Regions from separate parts of the Homo sapiens genome. Here region 2 is linked to region 1. Evidence: fine-mapped expression QTL. A gene starts in region 1. The other region holds a variant in brackets. All regions are shown on one strand. Distances are between the middles of the regions.

What was found.
Region 2: its variant is fine-mapped to the expression of SIN3B in whole blood (INTERVAL, PIP above 0.99).

What each region holds. Positions count from the first base shown.
Region 1 is chr19:16,820,580-16,836,407 of GRCh38, forward strand. It overlaps SIN3B (SIN3 transcription regulator family member B), which reads left to right and starts at 8,819. Exons shown (of 19, transcript NM_001297595.2): 1 at 8,819-8,961; 2 at 9,212-9,318; 3 at 10,915-11,068. The coding sequence starts at 8,842. LOC124904648 (a long non-coding RNA gene) reads right to left here and starts at 653. Exons shown (of 3, transcript XR_007067150.1): 1 at 612-653; 2 at 432-517. RefSeq lists enhancers at 4,751-5,428, 8,545-9,046, 13,682-13,771 and a silencer at 8,787-8,966.
Region 2 is chr19:16,793,837-16,809,664 of GRCh38, forward strand. It overlaps NWD1 (NACHT and WD repeat domain containing 1), which reads left to right. Exons shown (of 19, transcript NM_001007525.5): 15 at 627-717; 16 at 3,896-4,050; 17 at 6,050-6,326; 18 at 13,750-14,300. LOC124904648 (a long non-coding RNA gene) reads right to left here. Exons shown (of 3, transcript XR_007067150.1): 3 at 2,143-4,124. Among named protein-coding and RNA genes, the nearest start is that of SIN3B, 28 kb to the right of the region's middle. The variant T/C (reference allele first, on the strand shown) is at 8,574.

The DNA of each region.
Region 1 (15,828 bases):
GGTGAAACCCTGTCTCTACTAAAAATGCAAAAAATTAGCTGGGCATGGTGGTGCGCGCCTGTAGTCTCAGCTACTCAGGAGGCTGAGGCAGGAGAATCAGTTGAACCCAGGAGATGGAGGTTGCTGTGAGCCAACATCATGCCACTGCACTCTAGCCTGGTGACAGAGTGAGACTCTGTCTCAAAAAACAAAAAAAATTTTTTTAGAGATGAGGTCTTGCTGTGTTGCCCAGGCTGGTCTCAAACTCCTGGCCTCAAGTGATCCGCCTGCCTCTCAAAGTGCTGGGATTACAGGTTTGAGCCACTGCACCTGGCCCAGTAGCACCTTTTTATGTTTGATAAAAATAAGAATATCCAGCCTAGGCAACTTAGTGAGACCCTGTCTGTAAAAAAAATAAAAATAAAAAATTAGCCAGGCATGGTGGCACGTACCTGTAGTCCTGGCTACTCAGGAGGTCAAGGCTGCAGTGAGCTGTGATTGCACCATTGCACTCCAGCCTGGGCAACAGAGCGAGTACCTGTTTCAGAAAATAAATAAATGGAAATAAAATTAAAAGATGTCTTTGTACTATTGTCCTCATGATAAATATACACATGTGTGCACATACATACATGTACACACATGCCCCAGATGGAACTGGCTTGTGGTTTTGTCAGAGGCGTTTGAAACAAGCTTACTCCATCTAGAATAGGGGCTGGGTAAAATGAGGCTGAGACCTGCAGGGCTGCATTCCCGGGAGGTTAGGCATTCTAAGCCACAGGGTGAGGTAGGAGGTGGACGGAAGACCCAGGTCACAAAGACCCTGCTGATAAAACAGGATTCTGGGGCGGGGTGGGGGTCGGGGGGCATTGTTTGTTTGTTTGTTTTTGTTTTTGTTTGAGACAGAGTTTCGCTCTTGTTGCCCAGGCTAGAGTGCAATGAATGGCGCGATCTTGGCTCACTGCAAACTCTGCCTCCTGGGTTCAAGAGATTCCCCTGTCTCAGCCTCCTGAGTAGCTGGTATTATAGGCACATGCTACCATGCCTGGCTAATTTTTGTATTTTTAGTAGAGACGGAGTTTCATCATATTTATCAGGCTGGTCTCGAACTCCTGACCTCGGGTGATCCACCTGCCTCGGCCTCCCAAAGTGCTGGGATTACAGGCGTGAGCCACTGCGCCCGGCCCATGCAGGGTTTTTGTTGTTGTTGTTGTTGTTGTTGTTTTTGAGACAGAGTCTTGCTCTGTCACCCAGGCTGGAGTGCAGTGGCATGGTCTTGGCTCACTGAAACCTCCACCTCCTGGGTTCAAGCGATTCTCCTGCCTCAGCCTCCTGAGTAGCTGGGATTACAGGCGCCCGCCACCACGCCTGGCTAATTTTTTTTTTTTTTTTTGAGTAAAGATGGGGGTTTCACCATGTTGGCCAGGCTGGCCTCGAACTCCTGACCTCAGGTGATTCGCCCACCTTGGCCTCCCAAAGGGCTGGGATTACAGGCGTGAGCCACCGTGCCGGGCCAGGATGCAGGGTTTTATCAGCATGGTGTGAAAGTGACCTCTGGTTGTCCTCACTGCTCATTATACACTAATTATAATACATTAGCATGCTAAGAGACACTCCCACCAGCGCCATGACAGTTACAAATGCCATGGCAACTTCCAGAAGTTACCCTATAGGTTCTAAAAGGGTAGGGACCCCTAAGTTCTGGGAAATCTTCGCCCCTTTTCTCAGAAAACTCATGAGTAATCCATCCCTTGTTTAACCTATAATCAAGAAATAACTGTAAGTATATGCAATCGAGCAGCCCATATCACTGCTCTGCCTGTGGAGTAGCCATTCTTTTATTCCTTTACTTTCTTTTTCTTCATTTTTAAAATTTATTTTTATTTTTTGAGATGCAGTTTTGCTCTGGTCACCCAGGCTAGAGCGCAATGGTGCGATCTCGGCTCACTGCAACCTCCGCCTCCCAGGTTCAAGTGATTCTCCTGCCTCAGCCTCCCGAGTAGCTGGGATTACAGGCGTCCACCACCATGCCCAGCTAATTTTTGTATTTTTAGTTGAGACAGGGTTTCACCATCTTGACCAGGCTGGTCTCGAACTCCTGAACTCAGGTGATCTGCCTTCCTCGGTCTCCCAAAGTGTTGGAATTACAGGCATGAGCCACTGCACCTAGCCTTTTTTCTTTTTTTTTGAGACAGGATCTTGCTCTGTTTCCCAGGCTGGAGAGCAGTGACACGACCATGGCTCACTGCAGCCTTGACTTCTTGGACTCAAGCAATTCTCCTGCCTCAGCCTCCCAAATAGCTGGGACTGCAGACGTGCACCACCACGCCAGGCTAATTTTTTGTTTTGTTTTGTTTGTTTGTTTGTTTTTTGTAGAGAAAAAGCGATCTGTCTGCCTTCGTCTCCCAAAGTGCTGGGATTACAGGCGTGAGCCACCTGGCCTCCTTTACTTTCTTAAACTTACTTTATGGACTTGTCCAGAATTCTTTCTTGCATGAGATCCAAGAACTCTCTCTTGGGGTCTGGATGAAGACCCCTTTTCGGTAACAGTTTCCTCTTCCCCAAATGAAAGAGGGCCTTTGCTGATCATTTGAGAGAAAACAAATTTGAGTAGAAGCCACACTCCCTGTGGGGAGGGGCACACTGTGGGACAACTCTGTTGGCCCTCAAGGACGATGACTAATAGGTTGCTGATGTCAGAGGCATTTGAACCAGAGCAACAACATCTTGAATAGGGGCTGGGTAAAATAAGGCTGAGACCTACTGGGCTGCATTCCCAGATGGTTAGGTCATTCTAAGTCACAGGATGAGTTAGGAGGTCAGCACAAGATACGGGTCATAAAGACCTTACTGGCCTGGCGCGGTGGCTCATGCCTGTAATCCCAGCACTTTGGGAGGCTGAGGTGGGTGGATCACCTGAGGTCGGGAGTTTGAAACCAGCCTGACCAACATGGAGAAACCTCGTCTCTACTAAAAATGCAAAATTAGCCGGGCCTGGTGGTGCGCACCTGTAATCTCAGCTATTCGGGAGGCTGAGGCAGGAGAATCACTTGAACTGGGAGGTGGAGGTTACAGTGAGCCAAGATTGCGCCATTGCACTCCAGCCTGAATAACAAGAGTGAAACTTCGTCTAAAACAAACAAAAACAAACAAACAAAAAAAACCTAGCTGATAAAATAGCCTGCAGTAAAGAAGCCAGCCAAAACCAAGATGGAGACAAGAGTGGCCTCTGGTTGTCCTCACTGCTGTACTCCTACCGGTGCCATGACAGTTTACAAATGCCATGGCAACATCAGGAAGTTACCCTATATGGTCTAAAAAGGGGAGGCATAAATAATCCACCCCTTGATTAGCGTATCATCAAGAAATAACTGGCCAGGCGCGGTGGCTCATGCCTGTAATCCCAATACTTTGGGAGGCTTTGGTGGATAGATCATTTGAGGTCAGGAGTTTGAGACCAGCCTGGCCAACATGATAAGACCCCCGTCTCTAATACTAAAAATACAAAAATTAGCCAGGCGTGGTGGCACGCACCTGTAATCCCAGCTACTTGGGAGGCTGAGGTAGGAGAATCGCTTGAACCTGGAAGGCAGAGGTTGCAGTGAGCTGCAATCGCGCCACTGCACTCTAGCCTGGGCGACAGAGTAAGACTTCGTCTCAAAAGGAAATAACCATTAAAATGGGCGGCCAGGCGCTGTGGCTCACACCTGTAATCCCAGCATTTTGGGAGGCCAAGGTGGGCGGATCACGAGGTCAGGAGATCAAGACCATCCTGGCTAACATGGTGAAACCCCATCTCTACTAAAAATACAAAAAAAATTAGCCAGGTGTGGTGGCAGGCGCCTGTAGTCCCAGCTACTCGGGAGGCTGAGGCAGGAGAATGGCATGAACCTGGGAGGCGGAGCTTGCAGTGAGCCACGATGGCGCCACTGCACTCCAGCCTGGGCGACAGAACGAGACTCTGTCTAAGAAAAAGGGCAACCAGCAGCCCTGGGGGCTGCTCTGTCTATGGAGTAGCCATTCTTTAGTCCTTTACTTTCCTAATAAACTTACTTTCAGTTTACTGTATGGACTGGCCCTGAATTCTTTCTTGCGTGAGATCCAAGAACCCTCTCTTGGGGTCTGGATTGGGACCCCTTTCCCGTAACAGTGTCAGAGGTGTTTGAACCAGAGGAACCCCGACTTGAATAGGGGCTGGGTAAAATAAGACTAAGACCTACTGCACTGCATTCCCAGATGGTTAAAGCATTCTTAGTCACAGGATGAGATAGGAGGTCAGCACAACATACGGGTCATAAAGACCTTGCTGATAAAACAGGTTGCAGTAAAGAAGCCGGCCAAAATCTACCCAAATCAAAATGACCTCTGGTGGTCCTCACTGCTACACTCCCACCAGCGCCAAGACAGTTTAGAAATGCCATGGCAACGTCAGGAAGTTACCCTCTATGGTCTAAAAAGAGGAGGCATGAATAATCCACCCCTTGTTTAGCATATCATCAAGAAATAAATCATAAAAATGGGGAATAAGCGGCCCTCGGGGCTGCTCTGTCTGTGGAGTAGCCATTCTTTGTTCCTTTATTTTCCTTATAAACTTGCTTTCACTTTACAGACTCTCCCTGAATTCTTTCTTGCGTGAAATCCAAAAACCCTCTCTGGGGGGTCTGGATCGGGACCCATTTCCTGTAACACTGGGAGGCTTTGGTAAGAAACGGACTGTCCAGACATCTGGTGGCCACAGAGTGTTCAGTCTGCCTTCGCTGCTCTTCCTGGCTGGGAGCCACAAATCTTCCATGCTTTACTTTCTAAATACCACTCCCTTCCACCCACCGCTCTCTACTTCCACTGCTCCCATCCTGGTCTAAGCCACCATCGTCCTTTGCCTAAATGATGAAACAGCCTCCCTCCACCCTCCCTGGCTCCGCTCCAATCACTTTCCTGCAGAGCAGCCAGAGTGATCACTTTCAAATGCAAACCTGAACTTGCAGCTCCTCCGCTCAAAGCCCTTGGATGGTTTCCACCAGCGTGAATGCTAAAGCCTGAACTCAGTGCATAAGGTGCTGTGTGTTCCGCTCCTCTGGCTGCTCCGGGATTATCTTGTACTCTCTTTCTTCCCCTCCCTCTCTGCAGCCTGGGAAACTCGTCTTAAAAAAAAAAAAACTCTTGAAATGTACCATGCTGTCTCCCACCTCAAAAATCACAGCTGTTCGTGATTTTTCTCATGATGAATGCCTACGCATTCTTCAGATCTCAGCTAGAATGCCACCTCCTCTGGGAAGCCTCCCTCATCTCCTGCAAGACTGGGTTAGGTTTCCCTAGGTAACAGGTGGTATTTTCCAAAAATAGCCACAACATATTTCCTGTCCCACATGATACTCTTGGCCATTTGCCCTCCTCTTGAATTTAGGAAAAACTTTGTAACAGCCTGTATGGAAAGAATGCAATGGAAATGATTCTGCGTGACTTCCGAGTCTGGGTGAGAAAAGGTAATATGGGAGCTGGGTGCAGTGATGCATGCCTGTAGTCCCAGCTACTCAACAGATTGACGTGGGAGGATCCTTTGAGTCCAGGAGTTTGAGGCCAGCCTGGGCCAGCCTGAGACCCTGAGTCCCACCCCAACCCCTGCCATCTCCGGAAGAAGAAGAAGGAGAAGGAGAAGAGGAAGAAGAAGAGGAAGAGGAAGAAGAAAAAGAAAAGATGATATGATTCCCACCTGGCTCACACGCTCACTTGTTCTTAGAACGGTAGTTGTGAAGAAGCTCAGGCTGCAAGGAGACCACATGTAGGTATTCCAAGCAACGGCCCCAGCGAGGGTCTCGGCCTGTAGCCTGTAGCAACTGACATACATATGTGTGAGCAAACATTCAGGTGATTCCAGCCCCCAGACTTTGAGCCACCCAGCTGATGCCAAGGTTGAGTTATTCCTCCCAAGCCTGCCCAAATTGCAGATTGAAGAGTAAAATGAATGTCTCTTTTCTTTCTTTTTTTTTTTTTTTCAAGACAGGGTCTTGCTCTTGCTCTGTTCCCCAGGCTGGAGTGCAGTGGCGCAATCTCAGCTCATTGCAACCTCCACCTTCTGGGTTCAAGCGATACTCATGCCTCAACCTCCCAAGTAGCTGGGATTACAGGTGTGTGCCACCACACCTGGCTAATTATTGTATTTTTAGTAGAGATGGGATTTCACCATCTTGTCCAGGCTGGTCTTGAACTCCTGGCCTCATGTGATCCACCCACCTCTGCCTCCCAAAGTGCTGGGATTACAGCCATGAGCCACTTGCCCCGTGAATGTTGTTGTCATTTGAAGCTTCTAAGTCTTGAGCTGCTTTTTATTTTCTTTTACAGAAAGCCCAGACCTTACAATGTTTTTATTTTTTCTCTCCATTTTTCTTTCTTTTTAATGTTTTTGTACAGATGGGATCTTGCTATGTTGCCTGGGCTGGTCTCAAACTCCTGGCCTCAATGCATGCCCCCACCTTGGCCTCCCAAAGTGCTGGGATTGTCAAGGGCTCATTTGTTACACAGTCATAGCAACAGAAATTTAGGAACTGTTACATGTATACCTTCTCTTTAAAGTATTTGTTACATGTGAAACTTTACATTTGTGTGATTACTAGATTCCTGTCTATCCTGAGAGACTAAAAGCTCTTAACGGCCAAATTTGCGTTCCTTTTTACCATTCTATTCCTGACACTTAGCAAGGTGCCTGGTAAATGATGCACTCGATGCCAATTTACTCTCAACTTTCCTGCACCTCTTCACTTATAAAAAGAGAAAGCACTTGGTCATTAATTGAACGTTCACTTATTTGATGAATGCTGACTGAGAGACTGTGTCAGGGATTTGTATTAGAGACGGACACAAAACAAATATGAAATACAAGGGACTGAGGGGAGACATAGAAGGGGACTGGGAACACTTCCTGAGGGAAAGGGATATTTGGGCTGCGTTTAGAAGGATGTATAGGTGTTTTCTGAATAACAAAGAGGCATGACAGTACTTCTGGCAAAGGAAATGGTGAGTGCCAATGCTTGGGACCAGGAAGCAGCCAGGTTGGTCAGGCAATTGTGTGAAGTTCTGCACAGAGGCAGGCAGTTTGCTTGGAAAATCCTGCAGGAAAAGGTTCCTAAGGACCAATTCTGACAGCCTGCAATGTAGGTGCTTAGATTTCATCTCATTAGAAATAGGAAGACCTTGGAGGTTTGGAAGGAGTGGTGGAAAAAGTGGAGTTTTTTGTTTTTCTGTTTTTTTTTTTTTAAGAGATGAGATGCTCTTTAAAAAAAAAAAAAAAAAAAAGCACTGCTATGCTTCCCAGGCTGGGGTGTGCAGTGGCAAGATCATGGCTCACTGCAGCCTTGAACTCTTGGGCATGAGCAATCCTGCCTCAGCCTCCCGAGTAGCTGGGACTAAACGTGTGCACCACCACGCCCAGCTAATTTTTTCATTTTATTTTATTATTTAATTAATTAATTAATTAATTTTTTGAGACAGAGTTTTTGCTCTTGTTGCCCAGGCTGGAGTGCAATGGCGTGATCTTGGCTCACTGCAACCTCCGCCTCCCGGGTTCAAGCAATTCTCTTGCCTCAGCCTCCCGAGTAGCTGGGATTACAGGCATGCGCCACAAAGCCCGGCTAATTTTGTATTTTTAGTAGAGACGGGGTTTCTCCATGTTGGTCAGGCTAATCTCCAACTCCAGACCTCAGGTGATCTGCCCGCCTCGGCGTCCCAAAGTGCTGGGATTACAGGCGTGAGCCACGGCGCCCAGCCAATTTTTTCATTTTCTTTTTCTTTTTTTCAAGGCCCGGCTAATTTTTTGTATTTTTAGTAGAGACGGGGTTGCACCGTGTTAGCCAGGATGGTCTCTATCTCCTGACCTCGTGATCCGTCCGCCTCGGCCTCCCAAAGTGCTGGGATTACAGGCGTGAGCCACCATCCCCAGCCTAGAGTTCTTGATAGTATCAGGGCTGAGAAAGTACCAGAGTTAGAGCCAGGTGGGGTGGCACTAAAAGTACAAAAAATTAGCAGGGCGCAGTGGCGGGCGCCTGTAGTCCCAGCTACTCAGGAGGCTGAGGCAGGAGAATGGTGTGAACTCGGGAGGCGGAGCTTGCAGTGAGCGGAAATCGCGCCACTGCACTCCAGCCTGGGCGACAGAGCGAGACTCTGTCTCAAAAAAAAAAAAAAAAAAAAAAAAAAAAAAAGAAAGTACCAGAGTTAGGAGGCTCCTAAACTGGTCCAGATGGGAAGTGACGGGGCCAAGGATAGGGAAGTGAAGATGGGAGGAGTAGGACTAACTTAAAGGCCATTTAGCAAAAATTCACCACGCAAGGCCCTATATTAGGGCGCTGGGGGCTCATACCTCATCGTCCCGTCAACTCTATAAAGCAGGGGCCAACAAACTTTTTCCATAAAAGGCCAGATCGTAAATACTTCAGGGTCTGCAGATCTGTAGGATCTTTAGCAACTACCTACTCTGTTGTAAGGCGAAAGCAGGCAGAGAAGCCAGGTAAACGCGTGGGCGTGTCTGTGTGCTAATAAAACTTTATTCAGGGACCCTCAAATGTGAATTTCACAAACTTTTCACAGGTCATAGACTATTCTTCTTTGGATTTTTCCCCCGGCTATGTAAACATGTAAAAATAATTCTGAGCTTGCGGGGCCGGACAAAGTAGGCGGCGGGTCTTGGCTCGCCTACCCCTGCTATATAAATCATTAATTATGATACCAATCTTAAGGAGAAGGTCTTCAGAAGAGTCCCTCAAAGAGCACCGCCCCTCAACGTCATCAAACCCCGCCTCCAAAGGCGGAGGCTGCGCATGCGCGGCAGGACCTCGGGCGGGGGCGGGGCGGGGCGCAGCTCCGACTTCGGACATGGCGCACGCTGGCGGTGGCAGCGGTGGCAGCGGTGCCGGCGGCCCCGCGGGCCGGGGGCTGAGCGGCGCCCGCTGGGGTCGCTCGGGCTCCGCAGGCCACGAGAAGCTGCCGGTGCACGTGAGTGGCGTCCCCGCCCTCCCTCGGGGAACCCATCTTCTGGACCCCGCGGGCGGGCGCCCCTCACCCAGGCCCCGCCCGGCCCCAGCCCCACCTCGGCCTCCCCTCTGCACTGCCCCGGACCCCTCACCCCTCACCTCTCACCTCGGCCCTCCGAAAGCCCAGCCCATCCCCTTCCCCTCAGGGACCCCGGCCCCTCGTCCCCTCGTTCCGCGGCCAGGGCCCACCGGGACCCTCCCCCTCTCTGCAGGTAGAAGACGCCCTCACCTATCTGGACCAGGTGAAGATCCGCTTTGGCAGCGACCCTGCCACCTACAACGGCTTCCTGGAGATCATGAAGGAGTTCAAAAGCCAGAGGTACCAGCGGGGCCCCTCTCCACCTCAGGGGACCCCCCTGGGCCGGAATCGGGCCTAGCGGGGTGAGACCTCCCCTCTCCAGCCTGCCCCCTTAGCCGGGTGACCTTGCGCAGGTTGTCCAATCTCTCAGAGCCCTAGCTCCTTCTCGTAACAAAAATGGAAATGGGTAGTACCCACCTTGTGGAGCTTTGTGGGGATTCCTGGAAGCAGGACAGGGATCTGGGGGGAGGCAGGGAGGGCGAGGCCGTGCACACTCATAGAGTCAAATCCTGCCTTGATTTAATATGTTGATTTTTATATTAGTTTTGTTCATGAAAGATTTGGTGGGACCCATTTTGATTTTTATTTTCAAGCGCTGTAAAATGTTATTGTCTTGATGATTGAAATTTTTGGCACCCTCTTCCCCTTTAATCTTGTCCTCAAGATGCTTCTCTGGGCTCACTGTGGTCCCAGGCCTGCTTGGAAGTAAGACGCATAAAATGCTTAGTAAGGGAGCTGGCACACAGAAAACGTTTAAAACACATGAGATGATTTTGCAGGCCCAGAATCAAGGAAGATTACAGATAGATGGGAAACCCTGGGATCATGCCCTTGTTTTTATAGGAGACTCACTGAGGTTTGGAGTGGGTAAGGGACCCACCTAAGTGGCAGAGGTGTCACTAGAACTCAGACCCTCTGACTCAGATTCTTGGAAGTCACATGCTTACCATACTGCTGCCCCCTCTTAGGAAACATGGTGGGGCTGGCCTGGTTTCCTTCCGGGAGCCCAGTGCTAAGGGCTGGGCTGCAATGCAGCCAGAAGGGAGACCCCATCTCTCCCCTCCTATTTTTCTTACACCTTTCCCATTCTTGGCAGTACCATTGGTATTTATGCATTGCAATTGTTTGCTCAGATGGAAACCTGTGTCATAGTCATCTCTATCTGATACAAAATGAGGGAAGTTTTCACATTGCTTAGAGGACTTTGGCCTCCTGCCATTTCTTGGAGTCCAGGCCTTGCGGTTGGCTCTCCTGACATTTTCAGAACCGAGTACCCATTCTTGGAGTGTTTTAGGGGAGCTGAGCGATGTCAGTATTCTCTGGTTCTCACCAGGAGGGAACAGGGAGCTCAGGCCTAGCCAGTCAGGAGATAGGTCATGGTGTACAGATGCTATCACATGGGGGCACTTTTTTTTTTTTTTTTGAGATGGATTCTCGTGCTGTCGCCCAGGCTGGAGTGCAGTGGTGTGATCTGGGCTCACTGCAGCCTCCGCCTCCCGGGTGCAAGTGATTCTTGTGCCTCTGCCTCCTGAGTAGCTGGGACTGCAGGCACGCACCACCACTCCAAGTTCGTTTTTGTATTTTTAGTACAGACAGGGTTTCACCATGTTGACCAGTCTGGTCTCGAACTCTTGACCTCAGGTGATCTGCCTGCCTCGGCCTCCTAAAGTGCTGGGATTACAGGCATGAGCCACTGCGCCTGGTGGGTCACATTTTAGGTTCCTTTGTTGTCTGTTGAGAAGGTTTTTATGTGGCAGTATCAAGGGAGTGGGGAATAGATTATATTTTTCATTTATTTCCCAAGACCCTTTTGCCCACTTCCGTTGTTTCTTCTAGCATCGATACTCCTGGAGTCATCAGACGTGTCTCGCAGCTCTTCCACGAGCACCCTGACCTCATTGTTGGATTCAACGCTTTTCTTCCCCTCGGATATAGAATAGACATTCCCAAGAATGGCAAGTTAAACATACAGTCGCCTCTGACAAGCCAGGTATGCCACTACAGTGGTTCGGGTGATCTCAGCCTTCACCGAGTATGTCTTGCTACTCAGGTTGGGCCACGTGTCTCTCCTGTATCATTGCTAGAAAGCCACTTAAGATCTGTTCTTTTTCTAGACGTGCTCATTGCTTCTAGCACAAATCAAAATAGATATGGAAACACCTACACAAGCAGCCTCTGCCTCCCAAATTGATCTGTTTGGAAGATTTAAATCAAGAGTGGATGTCAGGGAGGTATCCTCCTAACGCAGAATTTTGTGTGAAGTCTAAATAACCACCTCAGCAGTTGCTGAGGTCTTGGCTTGAGGCTTTCCCAGCGAGCATACCAGGCAGGCTTGCCCTTGTATTTAAGCATGTCCTCGTCTGCCTCTGATCACTCTCAGTACCACCTACAAAATAAAGTGGTCGAGATGGTGTGTGAGTAGCCACGTTTATGTTGGCTGTGTTTCATTTAATTGTTGATAGGATCATTAGCTCAGCTGGGACTCCTGGCTTTGCTTTGGTCCCTTTTTTCTTGGGTGATAGGTGCTGGCCCTCTTTTTTTTTTTTTTTTTTTTTTTGGAGACGGAGTCTGGCTCTGTCACCCAGGCTGGAGTGCAGTGGCGCAATCTCAGCTCAGTGCAACCTCCGCCTCCCAGGTTCAAGCAATTCTCCTGCCTCAGCCTCCCGAGTAGCTGGGATTACAGGTGTGCACCACCATGCTTAGCTAATTTTTGTATTTTTAGTAGAGATGGGGTTTCTTCATGTTGGCCAGGCTGTTCTTGAGCTCCTGACCTCAAGTGATCTGCCTGCTTCAGCTTCCCAAAGTGCTAGGATTACAGGCGTGAGCCACCGTGCCCAGCCTCCTTTTTTTTTTTTTTTTTTAAGACAGGTTCTCACTCTGTTGCCCAGGCTGGAGTGCAGTGGTGCCATCATATCTCACTGCAGCCTCAACCTCCTGGGCTCAAGTGATCCTCCCGTCTCAGCCTCCTAAGTAGCTAGGACTACAGGCGTGCACCACCACGGCCAGCTAATTTATTTATTTTTTTTGTAGCGACAGGGTCTCACTATGTTGCCCAGGGTTGGTCTCGATCTCCTGGCCTCAAGCGATGTGCCCACCTTGGCCTCCCACAGTGCTGGGATTACAGGAGTGAGCCACTGTGCCTGGCTCACTGCCCCTTCTATCTCTGCAGTCTCTTCATGCTTGAGCTTACTAGCGCCTCTGAGAAAAAGAAAGCCTACTTAAGATTTCCTTTTATAAGATGACCATTGTCATTTTTTCCACCTCAACACTATTTCCCATTTAAGGCATAATTCTTTGCTGTTGGGGGCTTCCCAGTGCATTGTGGGGTGTTTAGCAGGATCTGTAGCGTGTACCTACCAGACCTTCACTCAGTTCTGACAGCCAGAAATGTCTCCAGACATTGCCAGGTGTCTCCCTGGGGGGCAAAAGTGCCCCTGTTGAGAACCACCGGTGTAAGTGGACCAGCTCTCCCAACCTCCTCCAGTCCTTGCCTCGAGAGTTTTAGCAGGGAGTGTCAGAATCTACTGCTGGAAGCACTTGGTAGGTCTTCTTTGATGGAAGAGATGATAGAGCGTCCAATCAATTAGGGATCTGACACTCCGCAGTCAGTTGGAAAGAGAACAGCGAAGGGTAATGTGGCAGTGCTTTTGTATTAATTCCATGTGCAAGGTGTGTGTCAATTCTGCTGCTTCTCGGCCAGGCGCAGTGGCTCACGCCTGTAATCCCAGCACTTTGGGGGGCCGAGATGGGTAGATTACAAGGTCAGGAGTTCAAGACCAGCCTGGCCATCATGGTGAAACCCTGTCTCTACTAAAAGTACAAAAATCAGCCAGGCGCAGTGGAGCATGCCTGTAATCCCAGCTACTTGGGAGGCTGAGGCATGAGAATTGCTTGAACCTGGGAGGCGGAGGTTGCAGTGAGCAGAGATTGTGCCACTGCACTGTAGCCTGGGTGACAGAGCAAGACTCCGTCTCAAAAAAAAAAAAAATTCTGCTGCTTCTCTGTGCAAGACCCTCTCTGCCATCAGCCTGTTGTCTCCTGAAAGCCAAGGAGCGAGTCTCAGGGTTTTTTTTTTGCCTTTTTTGAGAAGGAGTCTCGCTCTGTCACCCAGGCTGGAGTTCAGTGGCGCAATCTCGGCTCCCTGCAACCTCCACCTCCTGGGTTCAAGAGATTCTCCTGCCTCAGCGTGCTGAGTAGCTGGGATTACAGGCACGCTTCATCATGCCCGGCTAATTTTTTTGTATTTTTAGTGGAGATGGGGGTTTCGCCATGTTGGTCAGGCTGGTCTCGAACTCCTGACCCCGTGATTCGCCCACCTCTGCCTCCCAAAGTGCTGGGATTACAGGTGTGAGCCACCGCACCCAGCTGAATCTCAGCTTTAAAGGGGAACTTGGAAGCGTGTGGCCACTGAACTCTGAAGAGCCTTCCATTTCCTGTTTGCAAATGAAGCCCCAGGATCCAGATGTACTGCTTGTGTCTTAGACCATGAAAGCCTTAGCAAGACTGATCTCCAGAACAGTCACGACTGCGGGAGAAAGCCAAGCTCATTTGCAATAGCAGCGTCCACCAGAGCACTTTGCAGAGCCTGAATGCTGTGGAAACTCTGGGTCTCGTTCCTGTCACTCACTCAGAAAGAGCCAGAGTGAAAAGATGTGAACTGTGCGTCCTGCATGTGGAAATTGCCTTTCAGCAGAGTCCCTGCCCGTGGAGTAACTCGGCTTTCAGGGCTAGATCTTGACAGGCGCCACACTGGTTGTATTTGGAGTTGGCTCTTCCTTTAAGTAGCTGCGGGTCCCCAACCGTGGAGGGCTGGCAGTCTTGTCTCCCCGTAGGTGGCTTAGGTGACAATGATGACGGTGCAGACCCATCGACTTGGGGAAAGGCTTGAAAAGAACTTTCACTTAGTAGCTACTCAGCAGGGCCTTGGTCATCGTGCTGCAGCCTGGGAACAGTCATTTCCAGGCTTAGGTGTAGAAGTTTGTTCTCTTCGGGGGCCCCTGGGAGCCCACTGGCTTCCAGTTGATATTGACACAGGTGCTGTCAGGTTTCCAGCCCTGTTTCCCAGCAGTCTGGGCTGTTGTTTGTGTGGCTTCAGGACAGAAACATGAGAGATATCCCAGGTCCAGGCCATGACTCGCGTGGCTTCAGGAGTCCTTTGAGCTTTCGGCTCCCTGGAGTCCTTTGAGAGGCCATCGTCTGAAAGCCTCACAGGGTTTCCCACACACAGAGGCCCTGGTGATATTCTTTCTTTCTTTCTTTTCTTTCTTTTTTTTTTTTTTTGTGACAGAGTTTCAGAGTTTCGCTCTTTACCCACGCTGGAGTGCAATGACACAATCTCGACTCACCGCATCCTCTGCCTCCCCAGTTCAAGCGATTCTCCTCCCTCAGCCTCCTGAGTAACTGGGATTACAGGCATGCACCAGCGCGCCCGACTAATTTTGTATTTTTAGTAGAGACGGGGTTTCTCCATATTGGTCAGGCTGGTCTTGAACTCCCGACCTCACGTGATCTGCCTGCCTCGGCCTCCCAAAGTACTGGGATTACAGGCATGAGCCACTGCACCTGGCCATCTTTTTTTTTTTTTTTTTTGAGACAGAGTCTCGCTGTGTTGCCCAGGCTGGAGTGCAATGGCACGATCTTGGCTCGCTGCATCCTCTGCCTCCCGGGTTCAAGTGATTCTCCTGCCTCAGCCTCCTGAGTAGCTGGGATTACAGGTGCCTGCCACCACTATCAGCTAATTTTTGTATTTTTAGTAGAGATGGGATTTCACCATGTTGGTCAGGCTGGTTTCGAAATCCCCTGACCTCATGATCTGCCCACCTCGGCCTCCCAAAGTTCTTTTTTTTTTTTTTTTTACTTTAATTGAATTATTTTTTAATTTTGAGACACCATTTCACTGTCACCCAGGCTAGAGTACAATGGCGTGATCTCAGCTCACTGCAGCCTCCGCCTCTGAGGTTCAAGTCATTCTCCTGCCTCAGCCTCCCAAGTAGCTGCTATTACAGGCATGTGCCACCACACCCAGCTAATTTTTGTATTTTTAGTAGAGACAGGTTTTCACCATGTTGGCCAGGCTGGTCTCGAACCCCTGACCTCAAGTGATCCCCCACCTCAGCCTCCCAAAGTGTTGAGATTACAGGCGTTAGCCACTGTGCCTGGCCTTTTTTACATTTTTAAAACAGAGACAGGGTTTCACCATGTTGTCCAGGCTGGACTCAAGTGATCCTCCTGCCTTGGCCTCCCAAAGTTTTGGGATTACAGGTGTGACCCACCACGCCTGGCCAGTATTCTCTGTTGCTTAGTTTTTCTAGTTTGACTGTTTTGAAGTATCTTTTTCCCCCCCCAATTTTATCACAAAGCCTGCCAGCTACTGACAAGTAGGGAGTGGCCCATAGGTGGTAAGGAAGGTGAATAAGAGAGTCCCAGCCTCGGGCAGCCTTTGGCGCAGGGTGTCTTCAGCTTTGGGGGCCAGACTGTTCTTTATGGCGAGGTGCCGTCCTGCACACTGAAGGGTATTTGAGCAGCCTCCCTGGCCTCCACCCACCAGATGCTTCTAGATGTGATAACCTAAAGTGTCTCCCGTGTTGCCGAGTGTCCCCTGGGTGGCAGAGTTGCTCAGGTTGAGAACACGAGTCTAAAGGGGAAGACAGACACAGGCCGTGGTGTGTGGCCAGTGACGACCTGGGGAATTTGGAGGAAGGAACAGCTTCTTACTGGAGCCTTGCCTTGGCCTCCTGAGTCAGCATCATT
Region 2 (15,828 bases), 27 kb before region 1:
AAAGTGCTGGGATTACAAGCATGAGCCGCCACACCTGGCCAACTTTTATGTTTTTAATTTAAAAAATTTTTTAGAGACAGAGTCTCAGTCTGTCACCCTGGCTGCAATGCAGTGGCACAATCATAGCTCACTGCAGCCTCCAACTCCTAGGGGCACAAGTGATCCTCCTGCTTGAGCCTCCTGAGTAGCTGGGACCACAGGGGTGTACCACCATGCCCAGCTAAAATTTTTATTAAGAGATGGAGTCAGCTAGGCATGGTGGCTCACGCCTGTAATCCCAGCACTTTGGGAGGCCAAGGTGGGCGGATCACCTGAGATCAAGAGTTTGAGACCAGCTTGGCCCACATGGTGAAACCCCATCTCTACTAAAAATACAAAAATTAGCCGGGCATGGTGGCAGGTGCCTGTAATCCCAGCTACTTGGGAGGCTGAGGCAGGGGAATTGCTTGAACCCGGGAGGCGGAGGTTGCAGTGAGCCAAGATCATACCACCGCACTCCTGCCTGGGAGACAGAGTGAGACTCCATCTCAAAAACAAAAAAAATAAAAATTAAAAAATTAAAAAATTCCAGACTTGTAACCCTTAACCCGTGGAAGTGCCTGACAGGCATCCCTGGTTCTGCACAGGTTTCCTCCAAAGGGGACAGATTGCTGGAGAAGCTTCCAGATGCTGTGAGGTTCCTGGTGGTCTCTGAAGATGAGTCCCTCCTCGCCGCAGGTAGCGTTTAGCTCTCATTTGGAGTAGTGAGGAAGCTAATCAGGATCAGGTTGGAGAAGGGGGTGGGGCTTGGGAACAGAGAGAAGTCCTAGGGCCAGAGGTTAGCAACGTTTTCTGCCAAATGGCCTCATAGTAAACATTTTTTGCAGTCCAGACGAGACAACCTCAGTTGCAAAGACTCAACTCTGCAGTTGTGGTACATAAACTAGCATAGACACTATTTTTCTATTATTTTTCTTTTTTTTTTAAATAGGGTCTTGCTGTGTCACCCAGACTGGAGTGGAGTGGCTCAATCATAATTCATTGCAGCCTTGAATTTCTGGGCTCAAACGATCCTCCCACGTCAGCTTCCTGAATAGCTGGGATTACAGGCACACACCACCACACCCAGCTAATTTTTGTATTTTTAGTACAGACGGAGTTTCACCATGTTGGCCAGGCTGGTCTCGAATTCCTGACCTCAGGTGATTCGCCCACCTTAGCCTCCCAAAGTGCTGGGATTACACAGGCGTGAGCCATTGCGCCCAGCCCTTTCTTTCCTTTTGATGCAGGATTTTTCTTGGCCTCTTTGCCAAGCTGGGAGCAGGGGGCACCCCATTTATTCAGCCTGTGGGGTCACATCTGGCTTTTGGCCCAGCCCGCGGCTCCCATGGCCACTGCCACGACTGAGCACTCAGCCCCTAGCAGGAGGGAGCATGTGAGCAAGTGAATGTAGGGTCCAGCTGGCTGCTTCAAGCACTGACACAGGGCCAGGCTCCATGCAGGGCCCATGGGCAGACCAGGCCATGTGTCACCCCAAAGGAAACACAAGGGGTCCACGACCCTGAAGCCCCAGAGGGGGTGTTACAGTGTGCTAATTACCTTTTTTTTTTTTTTTTTTTGAGACCGAGTCTCGCTCTATTGCGTAGGCTGTAGTGCAGTGGTATGATCTCAGCTCACTGCAACCTCCACCTCCCGGGTTCAAGCGATTCTCCTGCCTCAGTCTCCCAAGTATCTGGGATTACAGGCACCTGCTACCACGTCCCGCTAATTTTTGTATTTTTAGTAGAGATGGGGTTTCATCATGTTGGCCAGGCTGGTCTTGAACTCCTGACTTCAGGTTATCTGCCTGCGTCTGCCTCCCAAAGTGCTGGAATTACAAATATGAGCCACCACACCTGGCCTAATTTGCTCTTTTAGTTCCACCATCTGCAACCCAATGGATGGTGGCATGTTAGCAGTTCAGTCAGCCCCTTTCCCCATTCTGGCCTGCAGTTCTGGGACTGGCTTGGCCCCACCACTGCTTCTATTGCGTGGAGCAGCTTCCCTCTGCCATCAAGGACAGAGGGCCACAGTGTCACAGCCTTCCTGGGTACCTGCATCCAGTGAGTCCTAAGCTCTTGTCCCGTGTCCAAGAAGAATGAGGTCATGCTGACAATTGAAAAGTGATAAGGACAGAGAATTTTATTGAGCAACAAAACAGCTCTCAGGGGAGAGGGGATGTGAAGGTTGGGTCATCTCTCTCAGTGTGGCTGAGTCTGGGCGTTTTTATAGGCACAGGATGGGGGAGGGGCAGGTGGTAGGTAGTATTGGAAAACGTAACATTCAATTGGTTAAAAAGCATTATTCAGGCCAGGTGCAGTGGCTCACGCCTGTAATTCCAGCACTTTGGGAGGCCAAGGTGGGCCATCACCTGAGATCAGAAGTTCAGATCAGTGAACTTCTGATCTGAACTTCTGATGATCATGGTGAAACCCTGTCTCTACTAAAAATACAAAAATTAACTGGGCATGGTGGCAGGCGCCTGTAATCCCAGCTACTCGGGAGGATGAGGTGGGAGAATTGCTTAAACCCAGGAGGTGAAGATTGCAGTGAGCCAAGATCATGCCACTGCCACAAAAGTCTTATTCAGAAAGAATCAATCAGGAAAGGGTGGGCAAACAGGAACAGGAGTTCTCACTCTGGGTTGTGGATTTCATTTGGAAACAGCAGCCCAGGCTGTTTTTGGTTCAAAGGTACAGTTTCACTGGGGACCCATTCCTATCTGCCTAGGCATTTGCCTGCCTCCTGCCGCTATCCCTTCCTTTCTCCCTTCTTACTTTCTTTCCTCTTCTTCCTTCCTTCTTCCCCTTCTCATTTCTCTCCTTCCTCCCTTCCTCTTTACTTTTCTTCCTCTCTACCTCCTTGACTCTCCTCTCTCCTTCCTCCCTTCCTTCCATCATAGTTATCAAAGGCCTGCTGTGTGCCCAGCTTTGTGCTAGTTTCTGAGATACCATGATGAGCCAAATAGGCAGTCCCTGCCCTCCAGGAACTTACAGTTTCATTATAATAACTTTACAAGTTTCCTTAAGATGAGTGATTACTGGCTGGGTACGGTGGCTCAGGCCTGTAATCCCAGCACATTGGAAGTCCGAGGTGGGCGGATCACTTGAGATCAGGAGTTTGAGACCAGCTTGGCCAGCATGGTGAAACCTGGTATCTACTAAAAAATACAAAATTTAGCCAGGCATGGTGGTCAGCACCTACAAGCCCAGCTACTCAGGAAGCTGAGGCAGGAGAATCGCTTGAACCCAGGAGGCAGAGGTTGCAGTGAGCCAAGATCATGCCACTGCACTCCAGCCTCAGTGACAGAGCGAGACTCCATCTCAAAAAAAAAAAAAAATTGATGAGTGATTACAGAAGTCAGGCCCTCCCCCAACCAGCTGTGGGCTATGTGCAGATGGGGACAGGACTGAATCCACCTTCCCCGTCCTGGATCCCTTCTCCTGGCACCTAGCAGGGGTTCCAAAACATCTCTTTTTTTTTTTTTTTTTTTTGAGACAGAGTCTGGCTCTGTTGCCCAGGCTGGAGTGTAGTGGTGCAATCTCAGCTTACTGCAGCCTCTGCCTCCTGGGCTCAAGCAATTCTCCTGCCTCGGCCTCCTGAGTAGCTGGGATTACATGCATGTGCCACCACACCTGGCTAATTTTTGTATTTTTAGTAGAGAATAAAATACATGAAACATCGGGGTTCACCATGTTGGCCAGGCTGATCTCGAACTCCTGACCTCGAGTGATCTGCCCGCCTTGGCGTCCCAAAGTGCTGGGATTACAGGCATGAACCACCACATCCGGCCTCCAAAACACCTCTGTTGATGGAAGGAATGACCCTCAATCTCCTCTGGACATGAGAGGTGTAACCCCAGTTCCTGCCGTTTCAGGCTTTGGAAGATCGGTGCGGATATTCTTGGCGGACTCGAGGGGCTTTCGCCGATTCATGGCCATGGATCTGGAACATGAAGACATGGTGGAGACGGCTGTTTTTGGTACTGAGAACAACCTGATCATCACGGGGTCCCTTGATGCGCTCATTCAGGTGAGGGGAGATCTGGGACCCTTCATCCTCACCTCCACCTCGGGAACAGACACTGATTCTTTAGGGATTTTTGGCTGCAAAATACAGACACCCACAAAAATGAGTGCAGGCAAAATAGGTGAGTTCATTGGGAGGATATGGGGGTGTATCCTCCGCCCCAGTGGCAGACCTGGGTGAGAATTACTGAAATGTTCAACAAAGGAGGTAGCATTCCCAAACTGATCCTCAAACCTTGGGGGCAGATTTGTGCCTTCAGAGTGGAGCAGGGTTGTGGGGGAGGAAAATTCTCAATTTAAGTTCAAAGTTGTCCAAGCTGGAGAGAAAAGTAGATGGTGAAATAGCAGATCTTCAGTGTTTTAGTCTCAGGCCTCTTGAAGTTCTCTTTTTTTCCCCCTCCTTCTTATGAGCTATTTTTTCCAGTTTTAAAGAAATTGATAAATAGACTGTGCACAGTGGCTCATGCCTGTAATCCCAGCACTTTGGAAGGCCAAGGCAGGTGGATCACTTGGGCCCAGGAGTTCGAGACCAGCCTGGGCAACATAGCAAGACCCAATCTCTACAAAAAAACACAAAAATTAGCCGGGCGTCATGGCATGTGCCTGTAGTCCTAGCTACTCAGGAATCTGAGGTGGGAGGATCACATGAGCCTGGGAGGTAGAGGCTGCAGTGAGCTGTGATTACGCCACTGCACTTCAGCCTGGGTGACAAAACAAGAACCTGTCTCCAAAAAAATAAGAATAATTTTCTTTATTTTTTGAGACCAAGTCTCACTCAGTCGCCCAGGCTGGAGGGCAGTGTGGCATGATCTCAGCTCACTGCAACCTCGACCTCCTGGGTTCAAGCAATTCTCCTGCCTCAGCCTCGCAAGTAGCTGGGATTTCAGGCACCCACCACCATGCCTGGTTAATTTTTGTATTTTTAGTAGAGACGGGGTTCCGCCATGTTGGCCAGGCTGGTCTCAAACTCCTGACCTCAGGTGATCAGCTGCCTTGGCCTCCCAAAGTGCTGGGATTACAGGCGTGAGCCACCATGTCTGGCTAGAATAAAATAATTAAAAAAAAAAAAACATTAAAAGTTTTGAGCTTCCAGACCCTCTAAAAAAGGTTTACAGGGCACCCTCTAAAAAAGGTTTACAGGGCACCCTCCAGGAGTTCCCTGGAACACACTTTGGGAACTGCTCTGGAAGCTGATGGGTTCAAGCCTGAGTAAGTTAAAGGAATGGGAAGATGTGAAGGCCCTTGAACTTACAGCCTGAAAATTCACCTTAGGTTTATGAATGGGCTGAAGTGTATTTCTTATTTTCTTATTTATTTATTTTTATTTTTATTTTGACGGAGTCTCACTCTGTTGCCAGCCTGAAGTGCAGTGGCGCAATCTCAGCTCACTGCAATCTCTGCCTCCCAGGTTCAAGTGAGTCTCCTGCCTCAGCCTCCCGAGTAACTGCGATTACAGGTGTGCACCACCACGCTTGGCTGATTTTTGTATTTTTAGTAGAGATGGGGTTTCACCATGTTGGCCAGGATGGTCTTGATCTCCTGACCTCATGATCCACCCGCCTCAGCCTTCCAAAGTGCTGGGATTACAGGTGTGAGCCACTGCACCTGGCCTATTTATTTATTTTTATTTTTATTTTTTTTGAGACGGAGTTTCATTCTTGTTGCCCAGGCTTGCGTGCAATGGCACGATCTTGGCTCATTGCAAACTCCACCTCCCGGGTTCAAGCGATTCTCCTGCCTCAGCCTCCTGAGTAGCTGGGATTACAGGCATGCACCACCAAGCCTGGCTAATTTTTTGTATTTTTATTAGAGATGGGGTTTCTCCATGTTGGTCAGGCTGGTCTCGAACTCCTGACCTCAGGTGATCCACCTGCCTCAGCCTCCCAAAGTGTTGGGATTACAGGCGTGAGCCACCGCGCCTGGCCCAATGGGCTGAAGCGTATTTCTGAACTATAGTTGTCCACAGAAGATGTCAGATCTGCCCTCCTGTTCTGCTTCCTCAGGTGTGGAGTCTGTCAGAACAGGGGACCCTTCTGGACATCCTGGAAGGCGTCGGGGCCCCCGTGAGCCTGCTGGCCCGCGGCGGGGCTTTGGTGGCATCTGCTTCCCCACAGTCCTCATCTTTCAAGGTCTGGGATCTCAGCGATGCTCATAGGTCCCGGGTGCCTGCACCATTTCTGGACCGCACCGGCCTCACCGCAGTGTCCCACAATGGAAGCTACGTCTACTTCCCCAAAATTGGGGACAAAAACAAAGTCACTATTTGGGACTTGGCAGAAGGTTGGTAAGGTATAAGTATGGTCATTTTTGTGGGTAAGGCTTGGAGCCATCTGTCTTAGTTTAGGCTACTGTAACAAATCATCCCCACAGGCTGGGCCCCATGGCTCACGCCTGTAATCCCAGGACTTTGGGAGGCCTTGGCGGGTGGATCACCTGAGGTCAGGAGTTCAAGACCAGCCTGGCCAACATGGCAAAACCCTGTCTCTACTAAAAATACAAAAGTTAGCCGGGCATGGTGGCACATGCCTGTATCCCCAGCTACTTGCGAGGCTGAGGCAGAATTGTTTGAACCTGGGAGGCGAAGACTGCAGTGAGCCGGGATCCTGACTCTGCACTCCGGCCTGGGCGACAGAGTGAGACTCTGTCCCAGAAAAATAAAATAAAATAAATTATCCCCATAGACTGGGTGGCATAAGCAAGAAACATTATTCCTCAACATTCTGGAGGCTGGGAAGTTCCAGATCAAAGTGCAAGCAGATCTCGTGTCTGGTGAGGACCCGTTTCCTGGTTCACAGATGGCCATCTTCTTGATGTGTCCCCAGAGAGAGAGAGAAATCTCTTGTGTCTCTTCTTATAAGGGCACTAATCCTATTCAGGAACGCCCCACATTCATGATCTAATCACTTCCCTGTCACTCTGCTACAGTTCGGAGGTTTGGCCCTACAAACCAGATGTTGGCATTTAATATCCGGCTGGCCATGGTGGCTTAAACCTATAATCACAGCACTCTGGGAGGCCGAGGCAGTAGGATTGTTTGAGCTTAGGGTTCAAGAACACCTGGGCAAGATGAGAGGATGCCATTTCTACTAAAAATTTAAAAAATAGCTGGATGTGGCCAGTCATGGTGGGTCACACCTCTAATACCAGCACTTTGGGAGGCCAAGGCAGGCAGATCACTTGAGGTCGGGAGTTCGAGACCAGCCTGACCAACATGGAAAAACCCCACCTCCACTAAAGCAATACAAAATTAGCTGGGCGTGGTGGTGCATGCCTGTAATCCCAGCTACTCAGGAGGCTGAGGCAGAAGAATAGCTTGAACCTGGGAGGCAGAGGTTGCAGTGAGCCGAGATCACGCCATTGCACTCCAGCCTGGGCAACAAGAGCAAAACTCTGTCTCAAAAAAAAAATTAGCTGGATATGGTGGCATGTGCTTGTTGTTCTAGCTATTTTGGGGGCTAAGGTGGGAGGATCGCTTGAGCCTGGGAAGTTGAGGCTACAGTGAGTCATGATCGCACTACTGCACTCCAGCCTGGGTGACAGAGTGAGACCCTGTCTCTAAAAACAAACAAAAAAGCCAGGCGTGATGGCTCACACCTGTGATCCCAGCACTTTGGGTGGCTGAGGTGGGCGGATCACTTGAGCTCAGGAGTTTGAGACCAGACGTCTCTACATAAAAGACAAAAATTAGCTCGGTGTAGTGGCTCACATCTGTAGTCCAAGCTACTTGGGAGGCTGTGGTGGTAGGATCACTTGAGCCCAGGAGGCAGAAGTTGCAGTGAGCTGAGATTGTGCCACTGCACTCCAGCCTGGACGACAGAACAAGACCCTGTTTGAAAACAAAACAACAATAAAAAAAGAAATTTAATCCCCAGTGTTGGAGGGAGGCCTCACGGGAGGTGTTTGAGTCATAAGGACACATCCCTCGTGGATAGATTAATGCCCTCTCCTGGCAAGGCAGTGGTGGTGGTGAGTAAGTTCTAACTCTGTTAGTTCTCGCGAGGTTGTTAAAAAGAACCTGACCCCAGCTACTCAGGAGGCAGAAACAGGAAGATTGCTTGAGGCCGGGAGTTCAAGACCAGCCTGGGCAACATGGACCTTGTCGCAATAAAAATAAAAATAATGGCCGGGCATGGTGGCTCACGCCTGTAGTCCCAGCACTTTGGGAGGCTGAGTTGGGTGGATCACGAGGTCAGGAGCTCAAGACTAGCCTGGCCAACATGGTGAAACCCCATCTCTACTAAAAATACAAAAATTAGCCGGACGTGGTGGCGGGCACCTGTAATCCCAGCTGTTCAGGAGGGAGGCAGGAGAATCGCTTGAGCCCGGCAGGCAGAGGTTGCATTGAGCACCATTGCACTCCAGCCTGGGTGACAGAGCAAGACTCTGTCTCAAAAATAAATAAATAAATAAAAATAAAAATAAAAATAATGAGCTGGGCATGGTGATATTCACCTGTAGTCTCAGCTACTTGAGAGATGGAGGCAGGATGATCGCTTGAGCCCAGGAATTTGAGGCTGCAGTGAACTG[T/C]GATTGCACCACTGCACTCCAGCCTAGGTGACAGAGCAAGACCCTATCTCAATTAAAAAAAAAAAAAAAAAAAAAAGGAAGCTAGCACTTCCCTCTCTCTTGCTTCCTCTGGCCGTATGACCTCTGCACACCCCAACCCCCTTCACCTTTTGTATTAAGAAGAAGCAGCCTGGGGCCCTCACCAGAAGCAGAAGCTGGCACCATGCTTCCTGTACAGCCTGCAGAACAATGAGCCACATAAACCTCTTATTCATAATTATGCATTACTGTATTAGTCTGTTCTCACACTGCTAATAAAGACATACCTGAGGCCGGGCCTGCTGGCTCACACCTGTAATCCCAGCACTTTGGGAGGCCAAGGCAGGCGCATCATTTGAGGTCAGGTGTTCGAGACTAGCCTGGCCAACATGGTAAAACCCTGTCTCTACTAAAATTCCAAAACTTAGCCAGAAATCGCTTGAACCCAGGAGGTGGCAATTGCAGTGAGCCAAGATCTTGCTACTGCACTCCAGCCTGGGCAAGAGTCAGACTCTGTCTCAAAAAAAAAAAAAAAAAAGACATACCTGAGACTGGGTAATTTGTAAAGGAAAGAGGTTTAATGGACTCACATTTGCACATGGCTGGGAAGGCCTCACAATCATGGCAGAAGGCAAATGAGGAGCAAAGTCACGTCTTACATGGTGGCAGGCAAGAGAGTGTGTGCAGGGGAATTGCCCTTTACAAAACCATCAGATCTCATGAGACTTATTCGCTACCACAAGAACAGTATGGGGGAGACTGCCTCCATGATTCAATTATCTCCAGCTGGCCTCGGCCTTGACCTGTGGGAATTATTGCAATTCAAAATGAGATTTGGGTGGGGACACAGCCAAACCATCTCAGTTACCCAGCCTCAGGTAGTCCTTCATAGCAACACCAACAGACTTAGACAGGCCCCAGCTCCTAATACCATCCTATGGGGAGTGAGGATTTTGACATAGGAATTTGGTGGGGGGGTGGGGACACAAATCTTCAGTCCATAACATTCCTATAACTTCAATCAGGTAGAAAGTAGCTAGTCAAAAACAGGTTTTCATTAGCAACACCAATGAACTAAGACAGGCCCAAGCTCCTGATACCATTCCACAGAGGGTGATGATTTTAACATAGGAATTTGTCAGGGGGACACAAATCTTCAGTCCATAACACGCCTATAACTTCAATCAGGTGGAAACTAGCTAGTCATGGCCAGGTGTGGTGGCTCACACCTGTAATCCCAGAACTTTGGGAGGCTGAGGTGGGCGGATCATTTGAGGTCAGGAGTTGGAGACCAGCCTGGCCAACATGGCGAAACCCCAACTCTACTTAAAAAAAAAAAAAAAAAAAATTATCTGGGCGTGGTGGTGTGTGCCTGTAATCCCAGCTACTGGGGAGGCTGAGGCAGGATAATTGCTTGAACCTGGGAGGTGGAGGCTGCAGTGAGCCAAGACCATGCCACTGCACTCCAGCTTTGGCAACAGAGTGAGACTCCACCACCCGAAAAAAAAAAGAAAAAGAAAGTAGCTGGTCAAAAACAGGATTTCATTTTATACATTTTCTGCATGAGGTAGTTGGCAATCTGGTTGTTTCCGTTTGGCCTGTTTTAATTCAGGTTACCTAGAAGCTGAATCTGTGATGAGGATATTTGCACAAGTGATGTATTGAGGGGTGTTTCCAGGAGAACCCCAGAGGGAGATGAGAAAATGGGGCTGGCGGGGGAAAGGGTTGAGCAAGAATGCAGGCTCAGCTAAAGTCCCTCTCAGCATCATTCCATGGGGAGCCCTGGAAGAGGTAGAGCACCAGTCTTAGTCAATTCCGGCCACTATAACAGAATGCCATGGATTGGGTGGCTTAGAAAGAATAGCAAATGGGGCCAGGTGTGGTGGCTCATGCCTGTAATCCCAGCACTTTAGGAGGCTGAGGAGAGAGGATCACTTGAGGCCAGAAGTTCGAGACCAGAAGTTTGAGACCAGCCTGGGCAACATAGTGAGACCCCACCTCTACAAAAAAATTTAAAAGGTATCGGGCTTGGTGGTACATGCCTGTAGTCCTAGTTACTCCAGAGTCTGAGGCAGGAGGATTGCTTGAGCCGTGGAGTTCAAGGCTGCAGTGAGCTATGATAATGCCACTGCACTCCAGCCTGGGCAACAGAGACCCTGTCTCTCTGTTTTTTTTTTTAATTTAAAGAAAGAATAGAAATTTGTTTATCATATTTCTGGAGGAGGCTGGGGAGTCCAAGATCAAGGTGCCAGCAACTTTGTTGTCTTGGGTTAAATTAATTTTTTTTTAAATTTGGTATCTGGTGAGTGTCCTCTTTCTGGGTCATGGATGGCCAGATTTTCTTTGTCCTCACATGGTAGAAAGGGGCAAAGAAGCTCCCTGGGGCCTCTTTTTTTTGTTGTTCTGTCTTATTTAAGAGTCAGGGCTCACTCTACTGTCTAGGCTGGAGTGAAGAGGTACAATGACGGCTCAGTGCAGCCTCGAACTCCTGGGCTCAAGCGATCTTCCTGCCTCAGCCTCCTGAGTAGCTGGAACCACAGGTGCACCACCATGCCTGACTCCTGGAGACTTTAAAATTTTTAAAAATATTTATTTATTTATTTATTTTTATTTTTATTTTATTTTATTTTTGTTGTTGTTCTTTTGTTTGAGATGGAGTCTCGCTCTGTCACCCAGGCTGGAGTGCAGTGGCGTGATCTCAGTTCACTGCAACCTCCGCCTCCCGGGTTCAAGCAATTCTCCTGCCTCAGCCTCCCGAGTAGCTGAGATTACAGGTGTGCAGCACAATGCCTGGCTTATTTTTGTATTTTTAGTAGAGATGGGGTTTCACCGTGTTGGCCAGGCTAGTCTCGAACTCCTGACCTCAAGTGATCCACCTGCCTCGGCCTCCCAAAGTGCTAGGATTACAGGTGTGCACCACTGTGCCCAGCCAAATTTTGTGTGTTTTGTAGAGATAAGGTCTCTCTATCTTGCCCAGGGTGGTCTTGACCTCCTGGGCTCAAGCAATCTGCCTGCCTCAGCCTCCCAAAGTGCTGGGATTAGAGGCGCACACCACCATACCTGGTTAATTTTTTTAATGTTTTTGCAGAGGCAGGGGTCTCACTCTTTTGCCCAGACTGGTCTTGAACTCCTGGTCTCAAGCCATCCTCTCACTTCAGCCTCCTGAATAGATGGGATTACAGGCATGAGCCACTGCACCTGGCATCTCTCCATTTCCTTGGGCCCTGGTTCACCCTGCAACCAGCAAACAAGCACCTCGAGAATTGTAACCTCACTTGATTTGCTCCCTGCCAACCCCCAGAGCTTTGCCTAGTGGGCTGTTACTCTAAAAATGTTTGCCAAATTAACGACTGAATGAAGTTGAGAATCAGCTTGAAAATCAGGATTCCTTTCTCCTATTATTTCATCATTAACAAGGAGTTTCTTTTTTCTTTTTCTTTCTTTTCTTCTTTTTTTTTTGAGAGGGAGTTTCCATCTGTTGCCCGGGCTGGAGTGCAGTGGCGTAATCTTGACACACTGCAACCTCCACCTCCTGGGTTCAAGCGATTCTCCTGCCTCAGCCTCCCTTCCAAGTAGCTGGGATTACAGGTGCCTGCCACCACGCCTGGTTAATTTTTGTATTTTTGGTAGAGACAGGGTTTTGCCATGTTGGCCAGACTGGTCTCAAACTCCTGACCTCAGGTGATCCATCCACCTCGGCCTCCCAAAGTGCTTGGATTACAGACGTGAGTCACCACGCCCTGCCATTAACAGGAGTTTCTATACCTCTATCCTCCCAGCAGGACTGTGCCAAGTACTGTTGGTGAGAAACTCAGAAATCCCTCACTGTCCAATTCTCGCAGACCCAGCAGTGCCCCCACCTTCATTTTACTCCTGGGAATTGCCCACTGATGAAAGAAGCCTCTCAACTGGAAATGGCAGGGGGATGTGGCCACCGCCCCTGAAATGGCCCCAGTCAATGACTGCCTGATGTGGGAATACAAAAGTCTGGCCCCCTTGCTTCAAGATGGGACAATTCATGGTGGCTCATGCCTGTAATCCCAGTACTTTGGGAGGCAAAGGTGGGAGGATCGTTTGAGCCCTGGAGTTCAAGAATAGCCTGGGCAACATGGTAAAATCCCATCTCTACAAAAATTAGCTGGGCGTGGTGGCCCGAGCCTGTAGTCCCAGTTACTTGGGGGGCTGAGGTGGGAAAATCACTAGAGCCTGAGAGGTTGAGGCTGCAGTGAGCCATGTTCGTGCCACTGCACTCCAGCCCGGGCAACAGAGTGAGACTCCGTCTCTTAATAAATAAATACATAAATAGGCTGGGCGCGATGGCTCATGCCTGTAATCCCAGCATTTTGGGAGGCCGAGGCGGGCGGATCACTTGAGGTCAGGAGTTCAAGACCAGCCTGGCCAATATAGCGAAACCCCGTCTCTACTAAAAATACAAACAAATTAGCTGGGCGTGGTGGTGCGCACCTCTAGTCCCAGCTACCCGGGAGACTGAGGTGGGAGAATTGCTGGAATCTGGGAGGCAGAGGTTACAGTGAGCCGAGATTGTGCCACTGCGCTCCAGCCTGGACAACGAAGCCAGACTCTGTCTAAAAAAAACAAAAAATAAAAAAATTAGTAGGGCACAGTGGCAGGCGCCTGTAGTCTCAGCTACTCAGGAGGCTGAGGCAGGAGAATCACTTGAGTCCAAAAGTTGGAGGCTGCAGTGAGCTTCAGTCTCGCCACTGCACTCCAGAATACTGTCTCAAAAAAAAAAAAAAAAAGAAAGAAAGAAAATATGAACACCAGGCCGGGTGTGGTGGCTCACGCCTGTAATCCCAGCACTTTGGGAGGCCAAGGTGGGTGGATCACCTGAGGTTGGGAGTTAGAGACCAGCCTGGCCAACATGGAGAAACCCCACCTTTACTAAAAATACAAAATTAGCTGGGCGTGGTGGCACACACTTGTAATCCCAGCTACTCGGGAGGCTGCGGCAGGAGGATTGCTTGAATCCAGGAGGTGGAGGTTACGGTGACCTGAGATCGTGCTATTGCACTACAGCCTGGGCAACAGAGTGAGACTCCATCTCAAAAACAAAACAAAACAAAAAAAACCACCAGGGAAGCAGGGCTGCTGTGATTCACTCTCAGTGTAAGTCATTCTCATTTTTCTTCCCTGGCAGGCGAGGAACAAGATTCCCTGGACACCTCCAGTGAGATCAGGTGTCTGGAGGTTGCTGAGCAGCGCAAGCTCCTATTTACGGGCCTCGTGTCGGGGGTCGTCCTTGTGTTCCCCCTGAATTCCAGGCAGGACGTGATATGCATTCCCCCTCCCGAGGCCCGGAAAGCAATCAACTGCATGTCCCTGAGCAAGTGCGAGGACCGCCTGGCCATCGCCTATGACAACATCGTCCTGGTGCTGGACATCACCTCCGGGGACCCCTGCCCGGTCATCGATGGGCCAAGATACACCTTTTACACTCAGCTGCCCGAGACCCTCTCCAGCGTGGCCATTCTGACGGACTACCGCGTGGTCTACAGCATGACCAATGGGGACCTCTTTCTTTACGAGTGTGCAACTTCCAAAGCGTTTCCCTTGGAGACCCACAGGAGCCGAGTTGCCTGTGTGGAGGTCAGCCACAAGGAGCAGCTGGTGGTCAGCGGGTCTGAGGATGCCCTGCTGTGTCTCTGGGACCTGCAGGCACGCAAGTGGAAATTCGAGATGAGCTACACGGTGGGTGGCCCGCCTCCCCATGTTCATGCTAGACCCAGGCATTGGAAAACTGATAGATAGCCATCATTTACTAAGCACACACCATGGGCCATCGACCAGGATGGGACTGGGGTGATGAAAATGAGGCACTTGGTCAGGCGCAGTGGCTCACGCCTGTAATCCCAGTACTTTTGGAGGCTGAGGCAGGCGGATCACCTGAGATCGGGAGTTCAAGACCAGCCTGGCCAACATGGTGAAACCCCGTCTCTACTAAAAATACAAAAATTAGCCAGGTGTGGTGTTGCATGCTTGTAATCTCAGCTACTTGGGGGGCTGAGGCAGGAGAATCGCTTGAAATTGGGAGGCAGAGGTTGCAGTGAGCCAAGATCACGCCACTGCACTCCAGCCTGACTACAGACACTCCGTTTAAAAAAAAAAGAAAAGAAAAGAAAAGAAAAGTGAGGCATTTGTCTCAGAAGCAAAGTTTTTTTTGTTTTCATTTTTTTTTTAAAGAGACAGGGACCCCACTGTCACGAGGCTGTAGTACAGTGGCACAATCATAGCTCATTGCAGCCTCAATCTCCTGGGCTCCAGTGATCCTCCCGCCTCAGCCTCCCAAAGCACTGGGATTTCAGGCATGACCCACCGGACCTGGCTACAAAGTTCAAAGGAGTACCAAAAAGCTCAGCAATGGTAGGCCAGGTGCAGTGGCTCACCCGGCACTTTGGGAGGCCCAGGAAGGAGGATCACTTGAGGCCAGGAGCTGGAGACCAGCCTGGGCAACATAGGGAGACCTTATCTCTACAAACAAATGCAAAAATTAGCTGGGCATGGTGATGTGCACCTGTGATCCAGCTACTTGGAGGGCTGAGGCGGAAGGATTGATTGAGCCCGGATGCCACTGCTCTCTAGCCTGGGTGATAGAGCAAGGCCTGTCTCAAGAAAACAAAAAACAAAAACTCAGCAATGAAGATAAATAATTTTTTTTTTTTGAGATGGAGTCTTGCTCTGTCACCCAGGCTGGAATGCAGTGGCGCCATCTCAGCTCACTGCAGCCTCCCGGGTTCAAGCAACTCTCCCGCCTCGGCCTCCCAAGTAGCTGGGATTACAGATAAGCACCACCATGCCCAGCTAATTTTTGTGTTTTTAGTAGAGAAGGGGTTTTGCCATGTTGTCCAGGCTGAACTCCTGGCCTCAAGTGACCTGCCTTGGCCTCCCAAAGTGCTGGGATTACAGGTTTGAGCCACTGCACCTGGCCAAGAAGTAATATTTTAATGCAATATTTTTAAAAATCTAAAATGAATACCAAAATTCCATGAAGAACAAAATCTCAACATTATAGGTAAAAACTGGATCAAATCCTGCACTGGCTTAGTGCTGCTTCACTCTCTTCACCCTAATCCTGGCTCTGTGCTATTTCTTTTTTTTTTTCTTTTTCTTTTTCTTTTTTTTTTTTTGAGATGGAGTCTTGCTCTGTCACCCAGGCTGGAGTGCAGTGGTGCGATCTCGGCTCACTACAAGCTCTGCCTCCCGGGTTTATGCCATTCTC